Linked DNA regions of Homo sapiens. The gene in region 1 interacts genetically with each later gene. Each region holds a gene or a part of one and is shown in the gene's direction. Other genes may lie near its edges.

The links.
Region 2: changes in KCNQ4 (region 1) and CAMK1D together harm fitness less than expected from each alone (positive genetic interaction), as found in Homo sapiens cells (one large-scale study listed by BioGRID).
Region 3: changes in KCNQ4 (region 1) and NT5M together harm fitness more than expected from each alone (negative genetic interaction), as found in Homo sapiens cells (one large-scale study listed by BioGRID).
Region 4: changes in KCNQ4 (region 1) and CSF1R together harm fitness less than expected from each alone (positive genetic interaction), as found in Homo sapiens cells (one large-scale study listed by BioGRID).
Region 5: changes in KCNQ4 (region 1) and CYP4F12 together harm fitness more than expected from each alone (negative genetic interaction), as found in Homo sapiens cells (one large-scale study listed by BioGRID).
Region 6: changes in KCNQ4 (region 1) and HCRT together harm fitness more than expected from each alone (negative genetic interaction), as found in Homo sapiens cells (one large-scale study listed by BioGRID).

Annotation. Positions count from the first base shown.
Region 1 is NC_000001.11:40,782,609-40,786,586, forward strand, and holds the start of KCNQ4 (potassium voltage-gated channel subfamily KQT member 4), read left to right. Parts: upstream 1-1,178; 5' UTR 1,179-1,485; coding exon 1,486-1,799; intron 1,800-3,978. UniProt on the Homo sapiens protein: Pore-forming subunit of the voltage-gated potassium (Kv) channel involved in the regulation of sensory cells excitability in the cochlea. KCNQ4/Kv7.4 channel is composed of 4 pore-forming subunits assembled as tetramers.
Region 2 is NC_000010.11:12,825,047-12,828,546, forward strand, and holds part of CAMK1D (calcium/calmodulin-dependent protein kinase type 1D), read left to right. Parts: intron 1-526; coding exon 527-644; coding exon of another isoform or gene 645-679; exon of another isoform or gene 680-1,418; intron 1,419-3,500. UniProt on the Homo sapiens protein: Calcium/calmodulin-dependent protein kinase that operates in the calcium-triggered CaMKK-CaMK1 signaling cascade and, upon calcium influx, activates CREB-dependent gene transcription, regulates calcium-mediated granulocyte function and respiratory burst and promotes basal dendritic growth of hippocampal neurons.
Region 3 is NC_000017.11:17,302,234-17,306,172, forward strand, and holds the start of NT5M (5'(3')-deoxyribonucleotidase, mitochondrial isoform 4 precursor), read left to right. Parts: upstream 1-1,139; 5' UTR 1,140-1,317; coding exon 1,318-1,584; intron 1,585-1,615; exon of another isoform or gene 1,616-1,668; intron 1,669-2,130; exon of another isoform or gene 2,131-2,244; intron 2,245-3,939. UniProt on the Homo sapiens protein: Dephosphorylates specifically the 5' and 2'(3')-phosphates of uracil and thymine deoxyribonucleotides, and so protects mitochondrial DNA replication from excess dTTP. Has only marginal activity towards dIMP and dGMP.
Region 4 is NC_000005.10:150,059,055-150,062,554, reverse strand, and holds part of CSF1R (macrophage colony-stimulating factor 1 receptor isoform a precursor), read left to right. Parts: intron 1-705; coding exon 706-832; intron 833-959; coding exon 960-1,064; intron 1,065-1,582; coding exon 1,583-1,693; intron 1,694-2,692; coding exon 2,693-2,855; intron 2,856-3,500. UniProt on the Homo sapiens protein: Tyrosine-protein kinase that acts as a cell-surface receptor for CSF1 and IL34 and plays an essential role in the regulation of survival, proliferation and differentiation of hematopoietic precursor cells, especially mononuclear phagocytes, such as macrophages and monocytes.
Region 5 is NC_000019.10:15,683,087-15,686,586, forward strand, and holds part of CYP4F12 (cytochrome P450 4F12), read left to right. Parts: intron 1-406; coding exon 407-677; intron 678-1,729; coding exon 1,730-1,796; intron 1,797-1,981; coding exon 1,982-2,111; intron 2,112-3,500. UniProt on the Homo sapiens protein: A cytochrome P450 monooxygenase involved in the metabolism of endogenous polyunsaturated fatty acids (PUFAs).
Region 6 is NC_000017.11:42,183,560-42,186,756, reverse strand, and holds HCRT (hypocretin neuropeptide precursor precursor), read left to right. Parts: upstream 1-1,304; 5' UTR 1,305-1,391; coding exon 1,392-1,412; intron 1,413-2,228; coding exon 2,229-2,603; 3' UTR 2,604-2,697; downstream 2,698-3,197. UniProt on the Homo sapiens protein: Neuropeptides that play a significant role in the regulation of food intake and sleep-wakefulness, possibly by coordinating the complex behavioral and physiologic responses of these complementary homeostatic functions.

The DNA of each region.
Region 1 (3,978 bases):
CTCCCGCTCGGCTTCGTCCCTCGAGATCCTCCCGGAGGAACCGGGAAGAGTTTGCTGCGGAAGGCTCACCCTGGGGCAGGGCCTGCGGAGGGAGCGGCTGGTGTGGCCGCAGCTTTCCGTGGAGGAAGAGGGAAAGAGGATCGGGAAACCCAAGTTACCAACCCTGTGCAGGGCCCAGGAGGGCTAAAGGAGAGGGACTGCCCCCTACAGCCAGAGAGATGGAGGTCGGGGACTAAGAAAAACTTTCCAGCTGGAGAGGGAATGCCCTGGGACAAAGTATCCCCTTTTCTGGCTGGGATTCTGTGGGCCTTGGGTAGGGGGTGTGTGTCCCCTCTAAGGCTGGCTTAGAGCTCATCTCCCAACACTCCATCTGCCCAAACCCAGTTCCCTGACCTGGGAGTGGGGCAGGGGAGCAGGCCCCTCCATCGGGGAGGATCCTCTTCTGGGCAGGGTGGCTCTTCCCCCATCACGATGAAGGGAAGCTCAGAGGTGGCAGTTGGTGGGAGAAAGACACACCCAGGCCCACTGTGTTCCACACACCCTGATGCTGCCTAGCAGCCCGTGGGCTCCAGGCCTTTCAGGTAAGAGCAGGACAACCGCCGCTGCCCACCCAGCCACACACAGCACTGGGCACACTTTAAGCACCCGCACCAGGCACACAGTGCTCGACCCCAACGGACACACCTCATCCCCTTCGGACTCCACCTCCACTTTCGCAGCCACCCACACCCGACCCATAACTCACACCTCACTGACTCCATCCCCGCACCTGGTAGACCCACAGCCACCCACCCTGCACACACAAGTAGACGCCGTTCCACCGGTCTACACCTAAACTCCACGGGACACTGCGTCCCTTCCCCTGCCGCCCGCGGCCACAACTCCACATTCCACTTTCCACAAGCACACACGAGGCGTCCCACCCCGGGCTGGCCTTCGGGGCCACACTGCCCCACGCAGCGGTGGACACCACTTGCACGCGTCCGGCTTCCCGGCCCCGCGCGCTGCCCCCGCCACGCGGTTCGGCCCAGGCACCAACTCGGCCGCCCGTGCGCCCTGCCCCGCCGCCTGCTCCGCGCGTTCCCTCCCTCCGCCTCGCCTCGCTTGCTCGCTCGCTCCCTCCCGATTTGGGAAGGCGGCCGCGGGGCGGGCGGGGGAGGGGCGGGGCGGGGGAGGGTGACATGTGAGCGGCGCGCGCCGGTGGCAGGTGGAAAGGCGAGCGGCATGGAGCGCGTAATAAGAGAGTTGGAGTCGGAAAGAGCAGCCCCAGTCGCCGGGGAAGCGGGAGGTCAGTGCGGGCTCCGGCGGCCCCCAGGCTCCGAGCGCCCGCCCGCGGCCCCGGCCCGGCCCCTAGCCCCCGCCGCCCGCGCCCGCCCCGGGTCGCCCCTCTGGCCCCGGGTCCGAGCCATGCGTCTCTGAGCGCCCCGAGCGCGCCCCCGCCCCGGACCGTGCCCGGGCCCCGGCGCCCCCAGCCCGGCGCCGCCCATGGCCGAGGCCCCCCCGCGCCGCCTCGGCCTGGGTCCCCCGCCCGGGGACGCCCCCCGCGCGGAGCTAGTGGCGCTCACGGCCGTGCAGAGCGAACAGGGCGAGGCGGGCGGGGGCGGCTCCCCGCGCCGCCTCGGCCTCCTGGGCAGCCCCCTGCCGCCGGGCGCGCCCCTCCCTGGGCCGGGCTCCGGCTCGGGCTCCGCCTGCGGCCAGCGCTCCTCGGCCGCGCACAAGCGCTACCGCCGCCTGCAGAACTGGGTCTACAACGTGCTGGAGCGGCCCCGCGGCTGGGCCTTCGTCTACCACGTCTTCATGTGAGTTTGCGACCCCGCGCCCTTCCGCGTTTCCCCGCGCAAGCCTGGCCTCCCGGGGCACGGCCGCCCCGCCCTGGCTCCGCCTTCTACCCCCCTGCCTCAGGGCCGACCCTCATCTCTCTCCCCCCAGGCCTAAGCCCGGTTTCTGATCCCCTCGCTGAGCCCGACCCTAAGCCCTGATCTCCCAGGCCTGACCCCTGCTTGACCTCGCTTCTGACCTCCCCGCACCGCAACTGCTTATTTCCATCCTGACCGCCAATCTCTGCTCCTCTGTCCCAGGTACTCCCGACCGCCAGCTGCCTCCCCCAAGTCCGCTTGGCGAAGTCTGGGGCCCCTGGAGTGGGCGCCCTTTTCCTCTTCCCCACCCCTGCCTCCCTGTGTCCCAGACACAAAGAGGAACCCTTGGCTCCCACACGCTTCTGTCACCTGCTCCCCAGCTCTGAGCTATGAAGGGCTCCCCTCAGGGGTGCTCCTCTCCAGGGCGGCCCTCATTCCTACCCCTGCCCAGCTGACTGTGGGTGTGTGGGGGTCCCTGTGGGCCCCCTGGGCCCTGACACTCGCATATGCTGTGTCCGACTTGATCTGTGTCTTCGCTCAGTCTTCCCCTCCACCCTCAACTTCCCAGTGGCAACGGCGGCCGCCCTGCCTGCCCTGCCCTACCCTGCCGGCTTGGCCCAGCTCGCCTGCCTTGTTGGCTGGCAGCACCAGGCCTGGCTCTAGGCACCAGGGGAAAAAGAAAGAGGAGAGGGGTAGGTTTGGAAACACTGACGCTGCTGGGGCCCCCTCCTCCCTCTCACCAGGCTCCTACAACTTTCAAAAACACTGACCCCTCTTGGGTGTGAAGAGTGAATTTTGGCAGCTCAGAGCTCAGTCTTGGGGTACGGCCTGGCCCAGCCAGGAACATGAGAGGCCCCGCAGATATCAGTTGAAGGGCTGGGCCTGACGCTGGGACGCTCAGAGGTGCCCAGAGAGAGACCTCTGGTCCCTGGAAAATGTGTGGCTATTAATCCCTTTTTGCTGCCACCAGAGAGGGCCCTTTGGCGCTGGGGTCTCCTGGGTGGCCCACCTGCCTGCCCACCTGACTGTCTAGCAGCCCTCCTGCTGGCCTGGCTGTCCCTCTGCCAGCCTGAGTTTCCACCTGTGTGCGAGTTGGCCAGTCTGCTCACCCTTCCACCTAACTGTCCGCAGTCCTTCTGCTTGCCTGTTTCCATCCATCTGTGGCCTGTGCAGTTATCCGGGTGCCTGTCTGTGCATCTGCCTATCCACCTGTCCACCTGACTGTCCACTCTTCCTCTACCTGTCTTTTCCACCTGTCTCTGGGTCTGTCCTTCGGCCTGTTTCTCGGGTGCTTGCTGGCCTGCCTCTGCCCCATCTGAACTGGGCCCACATAATTTCAGAGGTGAAGGGGAGAAAGATGCGGCACAGGGAGGGGCAGGGGGGGAAGACAGCAGGGCTCTCTCGGCCATTAAGTGCGTTGGGGGTGGCAACCTTGACTCTGTGCAGAGACCTCAGCTGGGCTAGGCTGGGGCAGAGAGTTGAAATTGCTCAGGACATGAGGTCAAGCTTCGGTTCAGGGTCAACGGTTTGTAGTAGCCCAGTCCTTAGTGTCCATTGGGAGGCCTAGGATGAATATTTGTGGCTATAAAGAGGCCCGTTGGAGTGAGGAAGGCCCAGGGCTGGTGGAGTTGGGGGTGAGGGGATGGGGACTACTTCTTAGGAGTGGCTACAGAGCAGCCTCCTTGAGTGCCTAAGGAGGGTGAGACACCCCCCAGAGAACAACTGTGCCCTCCGTGGGCTCCTCTTGGGAAGGGACTTTTCCAAGGCATGGCAGGGCCTGGGGAAGCCAATAGGGCTCTGAGGTGGGGTCCTTACCCCCCCAGGCTTGGCCTTACAGCCCCCACAAGGGTCAGTGGAGGTGAAGGACCTGCCTCCTGTCCCCTGGCCAGCTGCTGTTGGTGCCTCCTTTGAAAGGACCGCCCCTTCCTCTCCAGGAGCTAATCCACTGGCACCTTTGCCCCACATCCTGCCCTTTCCTGATGCCAGGAAATGCCCTCGCCAGGGCCGTGCTTGTCCTGACCACTTGTCCCCGGGAGCCCAGGGCCAGGGCATGTCTTGGGAACTCTGGGGGAAGAAGTATGGTGTGAAAGTGTCCTGGTGTTTAAGGATCTCAGGGAATTGG
Region 2 (3,500 bases), on another chromosome or scaffold:
ATGAGGGCCAATGGTGAAAGATGAGACGGAAACAAAATTAATTTTGCTGGCCTGCTGTATTCATAGGACATGCTATCATTAGGTTGGCGCAAAAGTAGTTGTGGTTTCTTCCATTAAAATTGCCATTACTTTTGCACCAACCTAAATCTTTCAGACAAAAGTACCAATACTAGGAAAATAAAAACTATTTTCAAATCTCACATTTTTAAGGTATTATAATATGCCTTTTATTCTAAAGGCCACATCTCTTAAATTACAGAGAGAATTGGTTTATGTTTATTCTATGTATTTATGATGTCAGAAGAAAACTATTTTAAGTCTCTAAAATATTTAGTTGGGGAAAGGGGTTAATAAATCAGTGCACTTTTAGAAGAAGGGACAACATAAGCTTTCCTTCTTGAGTAGCATGAGAATGATGTAAGGAGTTTGAAATGCTTAGGCTAATGTGATAAACAAGAGAACACAGTTAGAGTCTTTTCCGATTAGCTGAAATATTTGTCTGCTTTTTTCCTTTCTGAAATTTCAGCAAGCATTTAATGCCACGGCCGTCGTCAGACATATGAGAAAACTACACCTCGGCAGCAGCCTGGACAGTTCAAATGCAAGTGTTTCGAGCAGCCTCAGTTTGGCCAGCCAAAAAGACTGTGCGTATGTAGCAAAACCAGAATCCCTCAGCTGACACTGAAGACGAGCCTGGGGTGGAGAGGAGGGAGCCGGCATCTGCCGAGCACCTCCTGTTTGCCAGGCGCTTTCTATACTTAATCCCATGTCATGCGACCCTAGGACTTTTTTTAACATGTAATCACTGGGCTGGGTGCAGTGGCTCACGCCTGTAATCCCAACACTTTGGGAGGCTGAGGCAGGAGGACTGTTTGAGTTCAGGAGTTTTAAGACCAGCCTGACCAACATGGTGAAACCCCATCTCTACTAAAATATAAAAATTAGCCGGGTGTGGTGGCGAGCACCTGTAATGTCAGCTACTTGGGAGGCTGAGGCAGGAGAATCACTTGAACCCAGGAAGCGGAGGTTGCAATGAGCTGAGATCACACCACTGCACTCCAGCCTGGGTGACAGATTGAGACTCCCTCTCAAAAAAAAAAAAGAAAAATCATTGAACACTCGTGGAACCCTAGGTATTGCTATTTCCATTTACAGTTGAGGAATCCAGGGCTCAAGTCCTCGCAGCCATGTCTGTCTGGATAAAGGCCTGGACTCTTTCTCATCTCCATCCTTCCCTCTGATTTACCTCTCATTGTACAGTCACTCTTGCGGATTGAGGAAGGGAGAGCAGAGCCTCAGGACAGCCTCCTGCCATTGACTTCCATAATGTATATATTTTGGATGCAGACAATGATAATTTGAGCTCATTTATGTGAAGTGCATTGACTTTGCAATAAAAGTAATAGTATTTCATTGTCCTTCGTCTTTGCATGGGCTATTCCATCATCGAAGGCACACTTACTCTCTCCTTATCTCTCTCCCCAACTGCTCCTCTCTCTGTGGAAATAATCCCGTTTGGCCCTTCCCATGGGTCCTCTCCACATCAGAGCAGTGGCCCTAATCTCCCTAACCATGGAGCAGCCCTGCAGCCTGGTCTCACCCTGGGCATCATGCTCCTTCCCATTTGGCTCAGAAAAGGATTCCCTTCCTCTCTAAGGAATCTTCCCATCTCATTTGGGACCATCCAGCCCTTAAATTTTCCCAAGAAATCTCTGTGAGTGTCCCCTGACATACCATAGCTCCCCTTTCACCCTGAATCTTTTCCACCCTCTGGTCAAAGGGAACCCCACGATGGATCCCTTCTTTACAGATTCATACACTGGCATCGGCAGCAAAGCCCGTCGGGAGCACTCCTTGTATGGCTGTTTGTCCCCATGTCTGAGCACACAGACTCCCTGGGGGCCTGCACCAACAAGCTCAGTGGCGGCTGAGGCCTCTCATATCAAGGCTTTTGATGCCTGCACATCCTCTGGGGGAGGGCTTCAGCGCAGCCTCTGAGGAGCTCCACTAGGCCAGGGACTGCTGAGCTCACACAGGAATAGGTGAACATCTCTATTCTTGCTCTTTTTTCTTTTCTTTTTGCTTTCCTTTCTTTTTCTTTCCCTCCTTTATTTCCCTCCTTCCCTCTCTCTTCTCTCTTTTCTTTTCCCTCCCTGCCTCCCTCCTTCCTTTCCTTCCTTCTTTCCTTCCCTCCCTCCCTTCTTTCTTTCTTTTTCTTTCCTTCTCTTTCTTTTCTTTTTCTTTCTTTCTTTCTCTCTCTTTTTCTTTTCTTTCTTTCTCTCTCTTCTCTTCCTTCCTTCCTTCTTCCTTTCTTTCTTTCTCTTTCTTTCTTTTTCTTTCCCTTCCTTCCTTCCTTTCTTCTTTCTCTCTTTCTTTCCTTCCTTCCTTCCTTCTTTCTTTCTTTCTTTTCTTTCTTTGTCTGTCTGTCTTTCTTTCTTTCTTTCTTTCTTTCTTTCTTTCTTTCTTTCTTTCTTTCTTTCTTTCTTTCTTTCTTTTCTTGTCTTTCTTCTCCTCTCCTCCACTAACCTGCCCTGCCCTGCCCTGCCTTGCCCTGCCTTCCCCTCCCCTCCTCTCTCCTCTCTCCTCTCTCCCCTCTCCCCTCTCCTCTCTCCTCTCTCCCTTCTCCCCTCTCCTTTCTCCTCTCTCCTCTCTCTTCTTCTCTCTTTCTCTCACTCTCTGTCACCCAGACTGGAGTGCAGTGGCACAGTCACGGCTCACTGCAACCTCAACCTCCTAGGCTCAAGTAATCCTCCTGTCTCAGCCTTCTGAGTAGCTGGGACAACAGGCATGTACCACCGTGCGCAGCTAATTTTTGTATTTTTTGTAGACCCAGGGTTGCCCCAGCTGGTCTGGAACTCCTGAGACTCAAGCGATCCACCCACCTTGGCCTCCCAAAGTGTTGAGATTACAGGCGTCAGCCACCATACCCTTATTTCAAAGTGCTCTGCGTCACAAAATGCTTTCTAGCCAAGAGTGTACACAACACACCAACCAAGGGTAGGAAGGTAGTATCATTCTTTATTCCTTCTTAAAATACCTGCTTTACAGAGCTATTATAAGAAGTGGACAATTCGTATGATGACAGTATGTAGTCAACACTAGCCTGGTGCCTGCTACATATTAAGTGCTCAGTACATGGAACCTGTTGTACCACAGTGGTGAAACCATGTTGTTTTCAAACACAAAGCAGTTAAAATTACACCAAAAAAAAGGAGAGGAGAGGTCTAAGAATAAAGCATTTTGAACCCATTGCAAAGGCTTTCCCACAGGTAGGTAAAAATAGTCACACGGGTAAAAATTTGGGTCCCCGCAAGTTGGGCGCGGTGGCTCACACCCGTAATCCCAGCACTTTGGGAGGCTGAGGTGGGTGGATCACCTGAGGTCAGGAGTTCGAGACCAGCCTGGCCAACATGGTGAAACCCCATCTCTACTAAAAATACAAAAATTAGCCCGGCGTGGTGGTGAGCCCCTGTAATCCCAGCTACTCGGGAGGCTGAAGC
Region 3 (3,939 bases), on another chromosome or scaffold:
ATACCATAGAATACTTCACAGTCATAAAAAAAGAATAAGATCATGTCTTTTGCAGCCATATGGATGGAGCTGGAGACAATTATCCTAAGCAAACACAGGAACAGAAAATTAAATACCTCATGCTCTCACTTAAAAGCGGGAACTAAACATTAAGTAAACATGGACGTAATGATGGGGACAACAGACACGGTGACCTACTTGAGGGTGGAGAGTGGGAGGAGGGTGAGGATGGAAAAACTACCTATCAGGAACTACGCTTATTACCTGGGTAATAATAATCTGTACACTAAACCCCCAAGACAGTCAATTTATATAACAAATCTGCACATGTATCCCTGTACTTAAAAGTTGAAAAGAGGCCGGGCGCGGTGGCTCACGCCTGTAATCCCAGCACTTTGGGAGGCTGAGGTGGGAGGATCGTTTGAGCCCAACATAGGAAGACTCCTGTCTCAAAAAAAAAAAAAAAAAAAAAAAAATTACCAGGGTGTGGTGGCAGGCCCCTGTGGTCCCAGCTACTCAGGAGGCAGAAGCAGGACGATCCCTTGGGCCCAGAAACTCAAGGCTGCAGGGAACCGAGATCATGCCACTGCTTCCACCCTGGGTAACAGAGCAAGACCCCGTCTCCAAAAAAAAAAAAAAAAAAAAGCAATACAGGGGTACTTAATATTTATTCATATATTTACCTGAGAATCATCAGTTTTACTAAGGCTGTATGATGTTAGCAGATATTGGTTCTATCAGTCTCTCCGCAGACATTTGCTGTAAATAAAGCAGAGAGGCTTTCAGAGTGCACCCTGTTTTTGTTCCTCCATCCTGTTGTCTGGATCCCCTTCTAAAACGTAAGTTCCAGGATGGCAGGAACTTTGTCTATTTGGTTCACACTCGACACAGTTAGTGCTCAAAAATGTCTAACGACACAGGCCTGCTTCTCGGTTTGCACTGCTCCTCCATGGTAGTCTGTGCAGTGGGAGAAGGCAGCCCGGGCCCAGGGTCCACGGAGAAGACGCAAATCGACAGCGCGGGAGCGCGGACCTTCTGGAGGCGCGCGGCGCTTACCGCTGTCCGTCCTCGAAGCCCCGCCCCGGGGCTCCGCCTCCGCCGGCGCGTGTTCCTTTAGGGACCGCGCGCGCCGCGGCCTCGCTCTGGGGCCGGTACTTGCGCGCCCGCACCCCGCGCTCCCCGCCCCGCTCCCCGTCCCGCGCTCCACGCGCGCCCCAGCGTTGGGGGCTTCTCCTCCGCGGCGGGAATGTCTGGCCGGCTCCGGCAGCACGGCGCGGCCCAGGTCCCCGCGCCCACGACGGGCCAGCGCGCTGGGCCATGATCCGGCTGGGCGGCTGGTGTGCGCGGCGGCTCTGCAGCGCGGCGGTTCCCGCGGGGCGGCGCGGGGCGGCGGGCGGGCTGGGCCTGGCGGGAGGCCGCGCCCTACGGGTGCTGGTGGACATGGACGGCGTGCTGGCTGACTTCGAGGGCGGATTCCTCAGGAAGTTCCGCGCGCGCTTTCCCGACCAGCCCTTCATCGCGCTGGAGGACCGGCGCGGCTTCTGGGTGTCGGAGCAGTACGGCCGCCTGCGGCCAGGGCTGAGCGTGAGCGTCCCCGCCCCGCCCCGCGCCGGGCCTCCTTCTCGCCCCGAGCCCCAGACACCGCCCCTGCGCCGGTGACCTTGGACGGTCAGCGCCCCAGCCTCGGGGTGGCCCTCTGATAGAATAGGGTCTGGGGGGGACTAGGGGCCACAGCGCACCGGGAAGATGCGGCCCCGCGCTCAGGATCTGTTGGCTGCCATCCAAGGTTTCTGAAAATGCGGGAGAGTACAAAGTGTTAATATACCTAACTCTGCATTTAAAGCTGACTTCAAAATTTGTGGCATATTTGGCCTCAAGTCGTTTGTTAAATTTTTAGAAAAATAAACGTTATAAGTTGTCCTCTTTCACCCCGACCGCAGTCACATTCCCACTTCTTTGTCCCCAGGACTTTGATGGGTGTCTTTACCCATCTTTTTTACTGTTGTCCATGAAAGCATAGCTTCCAGGGGTATTTGAGGCCCAGAGAGGTTGTGTGACTTTCTGGGGGTCACACAGTGAGTCAGTGGTCCAGGTGAGGTGGGATCCACCTCATGTCTTATCCCCTTGCAGAGCTGGCCTTGCTGAACACCTGAGCTCAACCCCTACCATCCGACTCCCGAGGTGTTCTGTCCAGGATGGATAGAGGGGAAAGATCCAAGGAGGGACGTTTACACACAGATCTTGGTTGGTAAATTTGAAGTATTTTGCAAAAGGAACAGGGGATTTTGGTATGCACAAAATTAAAGAGGCTGAGTGTTTTTTGGCATCCCTTGATTGGCCACCTAGGGTTGCTGCTGGAGGGTTTGATAAAGAGGAGAAGGAAGTTACAAGAGCCCGTTTTTTAGCCACAAGTTCACTGCATCCTCTCTTTTGTTGGGTAGATATTATTATCTCTGTTTTCCAGATGAGGAAACTTGCCCCAAGTCACATGCTGCTCAGGGGCTCAGTCAGGACTCAAACCCAAGTCTGTCTGCCTCCCAAGCACAGTTAGTGCTCCCCACTCCACAGTCCTGTTCTCTGTACTACTGTCTCTAACAAGTGACATTTCTTCTGACATCAGAAAGATGCCTCATCAGTAATGTGGTTTGTTGAGGGACAGGTGTTAAAAAAGGAAACCAAGTACCGTTTGTCTCCATCAACACCAGGCACTTCAGAAGGTGACTTTCACAGAGCCCAGTGTGCTGAGCTCTTCTACAGCGGATGCCTAATGATAAACTTTAAACTGGAGAAAATGCCCTGGTACTTTCTGCAGCCTCAGGAATAGGCTCCAGTGTGTGGCGAGTGTTCATTTATAGGCAGCGCTCGGCATGGGGAGTCTGGACACCATATATCCGCCCGGGAGTGTATTAACGTGGAAACCAAGCCCACCCCCAACTCCGAAAAGTGCAGCAGCTTTTCCAGTTCTTTGTGCAAATATGTAGGCTCTGTACGTGTGGGGTTACTGGTTTCCAAGCACAAGGCAAAGGCACGGGGCAGTAAGGAGGGTGCCTTGGGAGTAATCTGCTGGCTTCCACTACTTCCCTTCCTGAGGCACGGCTTGCTGCTGTGGACATCCCTGGGCCTACCCCAAGCTGGCCCAGTATCTGTGGTTAAAACAACCGCCCCCCCCCCCCCGCCCCCACACACGTGGCTCCTTATGTGTATGTAGGCATTTCTACTTTTCAAAATTCTGCTCTGTCTGTATTCCCTTTGGTCTTCACAGTACCCTATGTGGGATGTGAGGATCAAATGTGTTTCAGTAATAAGCACGCATTTGCCTAGTCCCTGTGGTTCCTGAGAGTGTTGCTGGTATGCTGTCAGGGCATCCTCCGGCCGTCCATGTGACAGGGTGGCTGTCTTTCTGTAGTGTGCAGAACAGCTGGTAGAGGCACTTCCTGTACTGCACACGTGGGATTTAGGCTCCTGCTCATAGGCTGAGATGTGTCTCCCCTCTGGTTGTCACTTTCCCCTTGCCTGACCCTAGAAAAGGTGCTGCATTCTGGCCCTGCAGCAGAACAGGGGAAGGAGAAAGGCAGCGGGGGTTGGGGAGTGGGGAGGAGAGGGTTGGTGTTGGGGGTTCTTCTCCCAGCTCAGCTGCTGTTTTGCTGTGTGACATCAGGTGGATCTCTTCCCCGTTCTGAGCCTCAGTTTTCTGACATGTAAAATGAGGGTCTGCATTTTTGCTTTGCAACTCTAAAAGCAGCAGAATCCTTTTTTTAAAAATGTACTTATTGGCACCTCAACATATAAAACCGATAAAAGCAGAGCTCTTCTGGTTAATGTGGGGAGGATCCTCGAGCTCCCTGAATTGTCCTTTTACCCTGTCTCCCCCTCCCCCTTGTCCCTCATGGCACCTTAAAGATCTCTGAGTCCCTCCAGTTCTCAAGTTTAAGGACTCTA
Region 4 (3,500 bases), on another chromosome or scaffold:
ATTATGCTGGGTGAAATAAGGCAATCTCAATAGACACATGCTGTGTGAGTCCACTGAGGTGCAGTGCCTAGAGCAGTGCAATTCACAGAGACAGCAGAATCATGGTTGCCAGGGGCTGGAGGAGGGAAAGGGGAGTTGCTTTTTAACAGGAACAGAATTTCAGTTTTGCAAGATGAAAAGAGCTCTGGAAACTGGTTGCACAAGGTAGAATGTAATTTACTTAATACTACTGAACCATACACTTAAAAATGGTTGAAATGGTAAATTTCATGTATGTTTTATCACAATTAAAATATATATATATATTTGGATGGGAGGTTGGGTGGGTGGATGGATGGGTAGATGGATGGACAGATGAACGGATGGATAAGATCTCAAGTTCCACCCTCCCTCCTGGCTCAGGAATTACCAGATTATCAGAGATATCAGGGCCCTCAGAGGTTGTCTTGTCCAAGGTCTTCAATACACAAATAGTGAAACAGGCTTGGAGAAGGGAAGGTCACACAACAAGGCAGAGTCAAGCAGGAACATGCTCTCAGTGCTATGTTCATGAGACGACCTCTCTCAGCCCAGAGCAGGCCTTGCCCTGCCTTCTCCCACTGGGCGCCTTGGGACTGCCCACACCCCTGCTCTTGGGGGTCAGAAACAAGGTCCAGGAACTGCCTGCCAGCCCCGACTGCCACGTGCTCCCTTCCTCTTCTGCAGAAGCCCAAGTACCAGGTCCGCTGGAAGATCATCGAGAGCTATGAGGGCAACAGTTATACTTTCATCGACCCCACGCAGCTGCCTTACAACGAGAAGTGGGAGTTCCCCCGGAACAACCTGCAGTTTGGTGAGATGGCAGCTCATCACTCCACAGCTTCCTATCACAGGGCCTGTGGGGGTTGCAGGGAGCCCATGGGCCCTTGGACAGAGGCCCTTTGGTGCCCAGGGACTTAAGGGACCTGTGTGCGTGGCAGGTAAGACCCTCGGAGCTGGAGCCTTTGGGAAGGTGGTGGAGGCCACGGCCTTTGGTCTGGGCAAGGAGGATGCTGTCCTGAAGGTGGCTGTGAAGATGCTGAAGTGTGAGTGAGGGGAGGGGATGAGGGAAGGGATGGGGGGTGGTAGATGCTGGGGGTGGGCTGGCCCTGGTGTCACAAGAGGCATCACACACATTTCAACCTGTTGAAGCCTGGGGGACAGAGCTCAGGGGTGAGGACTTGGGTTTTCTTGTGAGCTCCAGGCACCCTCTGACTCCCGGCTCCAAGAAGGTCTAGGTCACCCTTTAGTTGTGAAGGGGCTCCTGACTGAGCTCCAAAAAGTCTGGGGGTGCAGAAAGGCCACCTATGGCCATGGCCTGGCCACAGTTTGGCTTCCTGTCACCTGAAGACCAGCTCAGTGACAGGCTCATCCCTCCTCTCTCTCTCTCTGCCATCTGTGTGTCTGCATTTTTCCTTCTCCTTCTTTTGGCTTCTGGTCACTCCGGGTCTTGGGGTATGCCCTGCTTTCTCCCCTGGGTCTCTGCATTTGGTCCCCATGTATCTGTGTGGTGCTCTCTGTCCTGCCCTCTCCCTGTCTTTGGGACTGTGGTTCTTCCTCCCAGCCACGGCCCATGCTGATGAGAAGGAGGCCCTCATGTCCGAGCTGAAGATCATGAGCCACCTGGGCCAGCACGAGAACATCGTCAACCTTCTGGGAGCCTGTACCCATGGAGGTAAGGGCCTTGGGGTTCCTGGGGCCAAGGTCTTGGGGCCTCTGGGGAATCTCAGGGCCCCAGGGCTACCTTGTTCCGTCTTCTCCTTCTCAGGATCCTACTGCTCCAAGTGTCAGGGGGATCCCGGTCACAGCATCCCTTAAACTCCTGGGCCCATCTCCTGGAATAGTCAGGAGCTGCACGGGCAGCTTGAGGTATAAAGAGAGACTGATAGGGAGCATCGGAGCCCTTGGAGGAGGAGATGAATGTGCAAGCTCCTAGGCCCTGCTTCCAGGGAGCCGGATCCTCTGGGTCTGGAGTGAAGCCCCCCGCCTACCTCTTATGAAGCTTCCATTCAAGGATGCTTGGACACTCTCCCCAGGGCCCCCAAAGGTGCCCCGGGCTTTGCTGGGACTCCAAGTGCCCCACATCCTCTTCACTGATAGCAGCTCTGACCTACAGTGAGCCGCCATAGCTTTCCTTTGAAGAAATAATTCTTGGGCTACATTTTTTTTAAGGTTGTCTTTTTTTTTTCATTTTTTGTTTTTTTTTTCTTGAGACGGAGCCTCACTCTGTCACCCAGGCTGGAGTGCAGTGGTGCGATCTCGGCTCACTGCAACCTCTGCCTCCCAGGTTCAAGCAATTCTCCTGCCTCAACCTCCTGAGTAGTTGGAACTACAGGCACATGCCACCATGCCCGGCTGATTTTTTTGTATTTTTGTAGAGATGGGGTTTCACCATGTTAGCCAGGATGGTCTCGATCTCCTGACCTCGTGATCCACCCACCTTGGCCTCCCAAAGTGCTGAGATTACAGGCATGAGCCACCGTGCCCCGCCAAAGCCATCTGTTTTAAACAAATGGAACTACTGAGGCACAAGGAAACTTGCTCACAGAGCCGAGGTTAGAACTCAGCTATGCTGAGTCCAAGTCCAGTGGCCTCACTGCCCCCAGTCTCATGCTCCTGTTCATGGAGGGGAGCACTCAGCACCTCCCTCACCCCACACCCTTGGCTGCTCTAGGCCCTGTACTGGTCATCACGGAGTACTGTTGCTATGGCGACCTGCTCAACTTTCTGCGAAGGAAGGCTGAGGCCATGCTGGGACCCAGCCTGAGCCCCGGCCAGGACCCCGAGGGAGGCGTCGACTATAAGAACATCCACCTCGAGAAGAAATATGTCCGCAGGTAGCCCCTGGCAAAGGACAAGAAAAAGGCCAGGTCTGGGAGGCAGGATCCGAGTCTGTCTTCAAAGCCAGCTCAGGGTTGGATGGCTCATGAATGGGTGGCTATGCAGCCCTCACCTGCCACCTGTGTCATGGGAAGTAGCCACCACAGGTTTTATGGCCATCTCTTGTTTCTCTACTCCTTTTCCCCTTCATTCAACAAATATTTGAACACCTACCGTGTTCTGGGAGTGTGGAGGGCAAAGATGGGCAGCTCATAATCTGGTGGAGATATGCATCAATGAAATCACCACCCAGTGTGTGTAAAAGATCAACCAAGATCTGTGCCTGGAGCCCTAGTAAGAGATGGGCAGATGTGGCCGGGTGCAGTGGCTCATGCCTGTAATCCCAGCACTTTGGGAGGCTGAGGCGGGCAGATCACCTGAGGATGGGAGTTCGAGACCAGCCTTACCAACAAGGTGAAACCCCGTCTCTATTAAATATACAAAATTAGCCGGGCGTGGTGGCGCATGCCTATAATCCCAGCTACTCGGGAGGCTGAGGCGGGAGAATTGCTTGAACCCAGGAGGCAGAGGTTGCTGTGAGCTGAGATCACACCATTGCACTCCAGCCTGGGCAACAAGAATGAAACTCCGTCTCAAAAAAA
Region 5 (3,500 bases), on another chromosome or scaffold:
AGAGACAGAGAGAGAGAGAGAGAAAGAGAGAGAGAGTTGGTTATGCTGGGGGCTGGAGCAGGGCTGAACTGGAAGAGGATGAAGTCTGAGTTGTGTGGACAGTTTTGGTAAGGAAAATGATCAGTACTGCATACTGGATGGGAGACAGAGGAGAGAAGCATGGTGTCCAAGCTATACTCTAGGTGCCTAGGTGCATGGAGACAGCTCTCTCAGAGATAGGATGCAGGGAGAGAAGACAGTCTAGAGAGTCAGTCTCATGACTGATACCCACCATGTATCTCTAGGACCATCTATTTCTAGATACTCAGTTTCCTGATGGGAGGTAGCTCCTGGCTGCTGGTGGGAGGTGTTCCTGGGGCTTTGCATACGTTACATTGTTGCCTCCCTTTCTGCCCTTGCTCTGCAGGAGGCCCAGTGAATATATTGCCACCATCTTGGAGCTCAGTGCCCTTGTAGAGAAAAGAAGCCAGCATATCCTCCAGCACATGGACTTTCTGTATTACCTCTCCCATGACGGGCGGCGCTTCCACAGGGCCTGCCGCCTGGTGCATGACTTCACAGACGCTGTCATCCGGGAGCGGCGTCGCACCCTCCCCACTCAGGGTATTGATGATTTTTTCAAAGACAAAGCCAAGTCCAAGACTTTGGATTTCATTGATGTGCTTCTGCTGAGCAAGGTAGGTTTCTCTATGATCTGAATTTAGGTGAGAGAATAGAGCTTCATGTCAAATGTCAGGTGAAATAAATTGGTTTTGATCCAAAGGGCACTGGGAGCCATGGAAGATGCTTGAGAAAGGGAAGGTCACAGATAGGTTTTAGAGATGACTTTATTGCATGCAGCCCACAGGGCACTGCTAATTCTGAAACTGTGAGGAGCATGATATTTTATTCAACTTATAAGTTAGTGTGTTAGTCTTTCACATTTTTATGTGTATCTATATGTCTATGTCTTTGTCTATGTCTGTATCTATGATAAAAGATGCACCAAACCCCTGGATCACAGCAGCCCATTAATTATTTACAGCAGTAACAGCAGGTGGAGTAGGATGGTAGTGCTGGCTCCCCATTCCTAGGGCAACACAATGTTTTTACCTGTAAATGCACAAGAATTTGCACCAAGGAGAGGGGCCCCCACATTATGAGTATTATAGCTTATATAGGACAGCTAGCTCATATGCTCCTTCTTTATTACAGGGTGAAAGTTAGAGACAGAGAAAGAGAGAGAGAGAGAATGCTTTGTTCTGGCGTATAAACTACCCCTCTCCTGTGAGATGGCAATTTCTAGAGTTTTATAACCCAAATATCTTCTGGAAAGATAAGATTCTCTGGGTTTACCACTCTAGAATGTCAGCAAATATTTTTGGAGCAATACATAATTTCTAACCTCCAAGGCAAATTGCCATTCAAATATCCTGTACCCCAGGTTGCCAGTATCTTTTTCTCTGAAAGTCTGTATTATGCAGAAAAATGAAAATATTCGAGAACCATTGATTCCTGTCACCAGGGTCCAAAGAGGAGGCAAAGGATCTGGGGGAAGCCCTTGGAGTTGGGGCTTTGGTGATGGTGAACAAGAGAGATCTAGACGTGCAGAGTGCATTTGAGTTTCTGGAAGATCAGAGCTTCAGAGATTATCTCAGGTTAGACTCCGGAGTCTCAGAGATAGTATAATTTGTGTGTGTGTGTGTGTGTGTGTGTGTGTGTGTGTGTGTGTGTCTTGCTTTCTCTTCAGGATGAAGATGGGAAGGCATTGTCAGATGAGGATATAAGAGCAGAGGCTGACACCTTCATGTTTGGAGGTGAGGGTCCCAGTGTGGGACTACAGTGGAGACAGAGGTCCCTCCATCTCAGGATCCGGGTGGGTGGACCCTGGATCACTCCATTCTGCCCATCTTCCCCCTCCCTCCATCCTCCTGAGGGCCTCAATATCTGGGCGCTGTCCACCCTCCGGTGCTGAAGCCAAGCTTACCTGGCTGCTCCTCAGGCCATGACACCACGGCCAGTGGCCTCTCCTGGGTCCTGTACAACCTTGCGAGGCACCCAGAATACCAGGAGCGCTGCCGACAGGAGGTGCAAGAGCTTCTGAAGGACCGCGATCCTAAAGAGATTGAATGGTGAGTGCAAGTTCTTCTGGCCTGTTCCTGAGCCCATCATTGGTTCTGCTCCCCAAGTGAGGAGGGGTGGAGGAGTTGTTTTGTGGATTCTTCCACTATTGCTTAGTGGGTATAAAAGCAGAGGACCACAGGCAGGGCTTGATACCAAGCCTGGCTGTCAGGGGAAAAGTTGCAGGCCTTTAGGACCGAAAGACCCGGGCTGCTAAGAGAATTGGTGACAATGTGTGAGGACAGATAATGCTACTTTGCACATGTTCAGCAAATGAACTTCCCCTCCACTCTGTTTCTGTTCTCCCAGAAATATCAGTTTTTTCGAAAATCCTCACTTCTTGAATGTTTGCTCAGGTGGGGAGGGAGAAGTTGTTTTTGTCAATTCTTCCATTATTGCTTAGTAGTACTAGGAGCAGAGCACAGAGGCAGAACTTGGTATCCAACCTGGCTAGCAGGGGAAAGTTTTCAGACTTTTGGGACAGAGAGTCCTAGCCCGCTGAGAGAACTAAGGACAATATATGAAGGCAGACGATGACATCTAGACATGTTCAGTCAATGAATTTTCCCTTCACTCCTTTCTTGTTTACTCTGAATTATCATATTTTTTTCAAACATCTTTACTTCCTGAATGTTTACTCTTCTGTTCCCTAATTCCTACCCTCCGGTCCAGTCCAGGGAGTCCTAAGGGAGACCTGGGGGTAAAAGTCATCTATCTTTTGTCTAGAACACCTGCATCGTTCATCCATTCAGTCTTCATTCAGCAAACTCTTCCACATGCCTTTCCATTGCCAGTTCTGTTCCCACACCTTTCTGTGCTCTGGAGACCTGGAAAGAACCCTGCCTATGGATGTGTTTTCCAGGTACTCCCAGCCTAGTAGGAACAGTCCCCCACAAGACATTCCCAGTCCACATAGGCAAGGATGGAGTTGAGAGCAAGAGAAGCATGGCTGGGAGTACAGAAAGTGTGATAGAAAGTGTTTCAAGCCAGATCTGGTGGCTGTCGCTTGTGATACCAAGTACCGAGGAGGCTGAAGTGGGATAATCACTTGAGGTCAGGTTTAAGATCAACCTGGGCAATATAGAAAGAACCCATTTCTAAAAAAGTAAAAAACCAAAATAATAAAGTGCCTCAACTGAAACCCTGAATGGTGATCAGTAGGTGTTTGGATGCAGTAGTGCCCTAGGTCAAAAAGAAAGTCTGGGCAAAAATGCAAAAAGAGGGAGCAGGAGAGAGGGAGAAGAGGGAAAGAGAGGTTTGTGTGTCAGGGAAGGAGATGGTTATAAAGGGAGGGAGAAGTAAGAGGGAGGAAAAGTGAGGGAGAGCAAGATAAAGAGAGGAGGGAAGACAGAAGGAGACAGAGAGAGAATGAGAGAGAAAGGAACTGAGTTGTGATGAGA
Region 6 (3,197 bases), on another chromosome or scaffold:
TAATCCCAGCACTTTGGGTGGCTGAGGCAGGCGGATCACCTGAGGTCAGGAGTTCCAGACCAGCCTGACCAACATGGAGAAACCCTGTCTCTACTAAAAATACAAAATTAGCCAGGCATGGTGGCGCATGCCTGTAATCCCAGCTACTCAGAAGGCAGAGGCAGGAGAATTGCTTGAACCCTGGAGGTGGAGGTTGCAGTGAGCTGAGATTGCGCCATTGCACTCCAGCCTGGGCAACAAGAGTGAAACTCCGTCTCAAAAAAAAAAAAAAGAAGAAGAAGAAGAAAGAAAGAAAGAGGGAGAGAGTGAGAGAGAGAAAGAAAGAAAGAAATGCAGGAAGGAAGGAAGAAGGAAAGAAGGAAGGAAGAAAAAAAAAGCGGGGGGGCCTGGTGCAGTGGCCCACGCCTGTAATCCCAACACTTTTGGAGACTGAGGTGGGTGGATCACTTGAGGTCAGGAGTTTGAGACCACCCTGGCTAACATGGTGAAACCCTGTCTCTATTAAAAATACAAAAATTAGCTGGTTGTGGTGGCGTGTGCCTGTAATTCTATTCAGGAGCTATTCAGGAGGTTGAGGCAGGAGAATCGCTTGAACCCAAGGCGGAGGTTGCAGTGAGCCAAGATGACCATACCACTGCACTCCAGCCTGAGCAACAAGACCAAAATTTAGTCACACACACACACACAGAAAAGAAAGAAAGAGAAATTGGGCTTGGTTTTGGCTTCTTACCTCCCACTGTCTAGGCTGAGTTTTCAAGGTTTTCCATCTCAGAGGCTAGTGGAAAGGGCAGAAGGGAGAAAAAAAGCTAGGGGGAGGGGGCAGCTAAGGAGCCTTTCCATGAAGGAAGAAGGTCCTGGAGCCTGACAGTCCCCAGGAGCAGCGACAAGAAGCAGGGGAGGGAGAGGACTGCTGCTGGCTGCTCCACCCCCCACACACATAATGTGGGGTCTCGCGTCTGCCTCTCTCCCGCCCCTAATTAGCAGCTGCCTCCCTCCATATTGTCCCAGGCCAGCGCCTCTTTTGTGCTCCCAGATTCCTGGGTGCAAGGTGGCCTCATTAGTGCCCGGAGACCGCCCCATCTCCAGGGAGCAGATAGACAGACAAGGGGGTGATCAGGGGCACAGTGATCCAACCCTGGCCTCTGAACGCCGCAGCGGCCATTCCTTGGGCCCAGCCTGGAGACGGCCCCCCTGCAGCAGGCTAATCTTAGACTTGCCTTTGTCTGGCCTGGGTGTGGACGCAAGTGCCTGTCAATTCCCCGCCACCTCAGAGCACTATAAACCCCAGACCCCTGGGAGTGGGTCACAATTGACAGCCTCAAGGTTCCTGGCTTTTTGAACCACCACAGACATCTCCTTTCCCGGCTACCCCACCCTGAGCGCCAGACACCATGAACCTTCCTTCCACAAAGGTAAAGATCCAGGGATGGAGGGGTGACTCACCATCCCAGAGAAGCAAAAAGAGTGCTTGCTCAGAGGGCTGGAAGAAAGGCCAAAGGTGTCTCCACTCTTGGTCTTTTCCTGGGTGTGCTCTGAGGCAGGAGCACCTGCCTTGGCTCACATTGGGTTGGGTGCTGTTTTGCTAAGAGCCTGTGTTTGCTGAGCTCTATGTGTCAGGTGCTCCGTTTGCACCTGTCATCTCTTGTCATCCTCCCAACAGCCTTGCAGAGTAGAAATTATTTCTAGTATACCCAGTTTACAGGTAAGGGAGCTGTGCCCTCTGAAAGGGCAGGAAACTGGTTCAAAGCAACGGAGTTCAGTCACTCCTGCAAGGGGGCAGGCAGATGAGAGAGCATTCTGGAGTCTTGCTAGTTCCTGATTTCCATGTGTTTCCCTGCTGTGGAGAGGAAGTTGGGGGGACTCAGTAGGGCCCGGGTTTTTCCCAAGTTTACAACTTCTGCTGCAGACAGACACTCCTGTTTTCAGGTGGAGTGGCAAGTGCCCTAGTGGTGGCACAGTGGCCTAAGTCTCCAGAGAAAAGGGGGATTCACTCTGCCCAGGGGGTCTCAAAAGGCTTCCTGGGGGAGATGCTCTGCTGGGTCTTGAAGGAGGAGCAGGGAAAGTAGGCCGATACCAGCAAGGGCGCAAAGCAAGGAGAACTAAGTGACAGCCAGAAAGGAGTGCAGGCTTGGAGGGGGCGCGGAGCCAGAGGGGCAGGTCCTGGGCGTGGGAGCTGGTGGCGGGCGCCGTGGGAAGACCCCCCCAGCGCCCTGTCTCCGTCTCCCTAGGTCTCCTGGGCCGCCGTGACGCTACTGCTGCTGCTGCTGCTGCTGCCGCCCGCGCTGTTGTCGTCCGGGGCGGCTGCACAGCCCCTGCCCGACTGCTGTCGTCAAAAGACTTGCTCTTGCCGCCTCTACGAGCTGCTGCACGGCGCGGGCAATCACGCGGCCGGCATCCTCACGCTGGGCAAGCGGAGGTCCGGGCCCCCGGGCCTCCAGGGTCGGCTGCAGCGCCTCCTGCAGGCCAGCGGCAACCACGCCGCGGGCATCCTGACCATGGGCCGCCGCGCAGGCGCAGAGCCAGCGCCGCGCCCCTGCCTCGGGCGCCGCTGTTCCGCCCCGGCCGCCGCCTCCGTCGCGCCCGGAGGACAGTCCGGGATCTGAGTCGTTCTTCGGGCCCTGTCCTGGCCCAGGCCTCTGCCCTCTGCCCACCCAGCGTCAGCCCCCAGAAAAAAGGCAATAAAGACGAGTCTCCATTCGTGTGACTGGTCTCTGTTCCTGTGCGGTCGCGTCCTGCCCATCCGGGGTGGCAAAGCGTCTTGCGGAGGACAGCTGGGCCTGGAAGCCCGGCTGTCGGGCACCAGCCTTAGCTTTTGCGTGGTTGAATCGGAAACACTCTTGGTTGGGGAGTTCCCAGTGCAAGGCCCTGGGGCACAGAGAGAACTGCACAGGTGCATGCTTGGATCGGGCCATGCGGGACTCCTACGATGCTCTGCTAGGCATTCTGTAGCGGGGACTTTACCCAGAGACGCGGAAGGGGAAGGAAAGCAAGAAAGGTTGCAGCGGTCGGGCGCGGTGCTCACGCCTGTAATCCCAGCACTTTGGGAGGCCAAAGCAGGAGGATCCCTTGAAGCAAGGAGTTCGAGACGAGCCTAGGCAACATAGTGAGTGAGACATCTCTCCAAAAAGTTTTTTTAATTAGCGGGGTATGGTGGGCGAGAGGATTGCTTGAGCCCAGGAGTTTGAGTTTGAGCCATA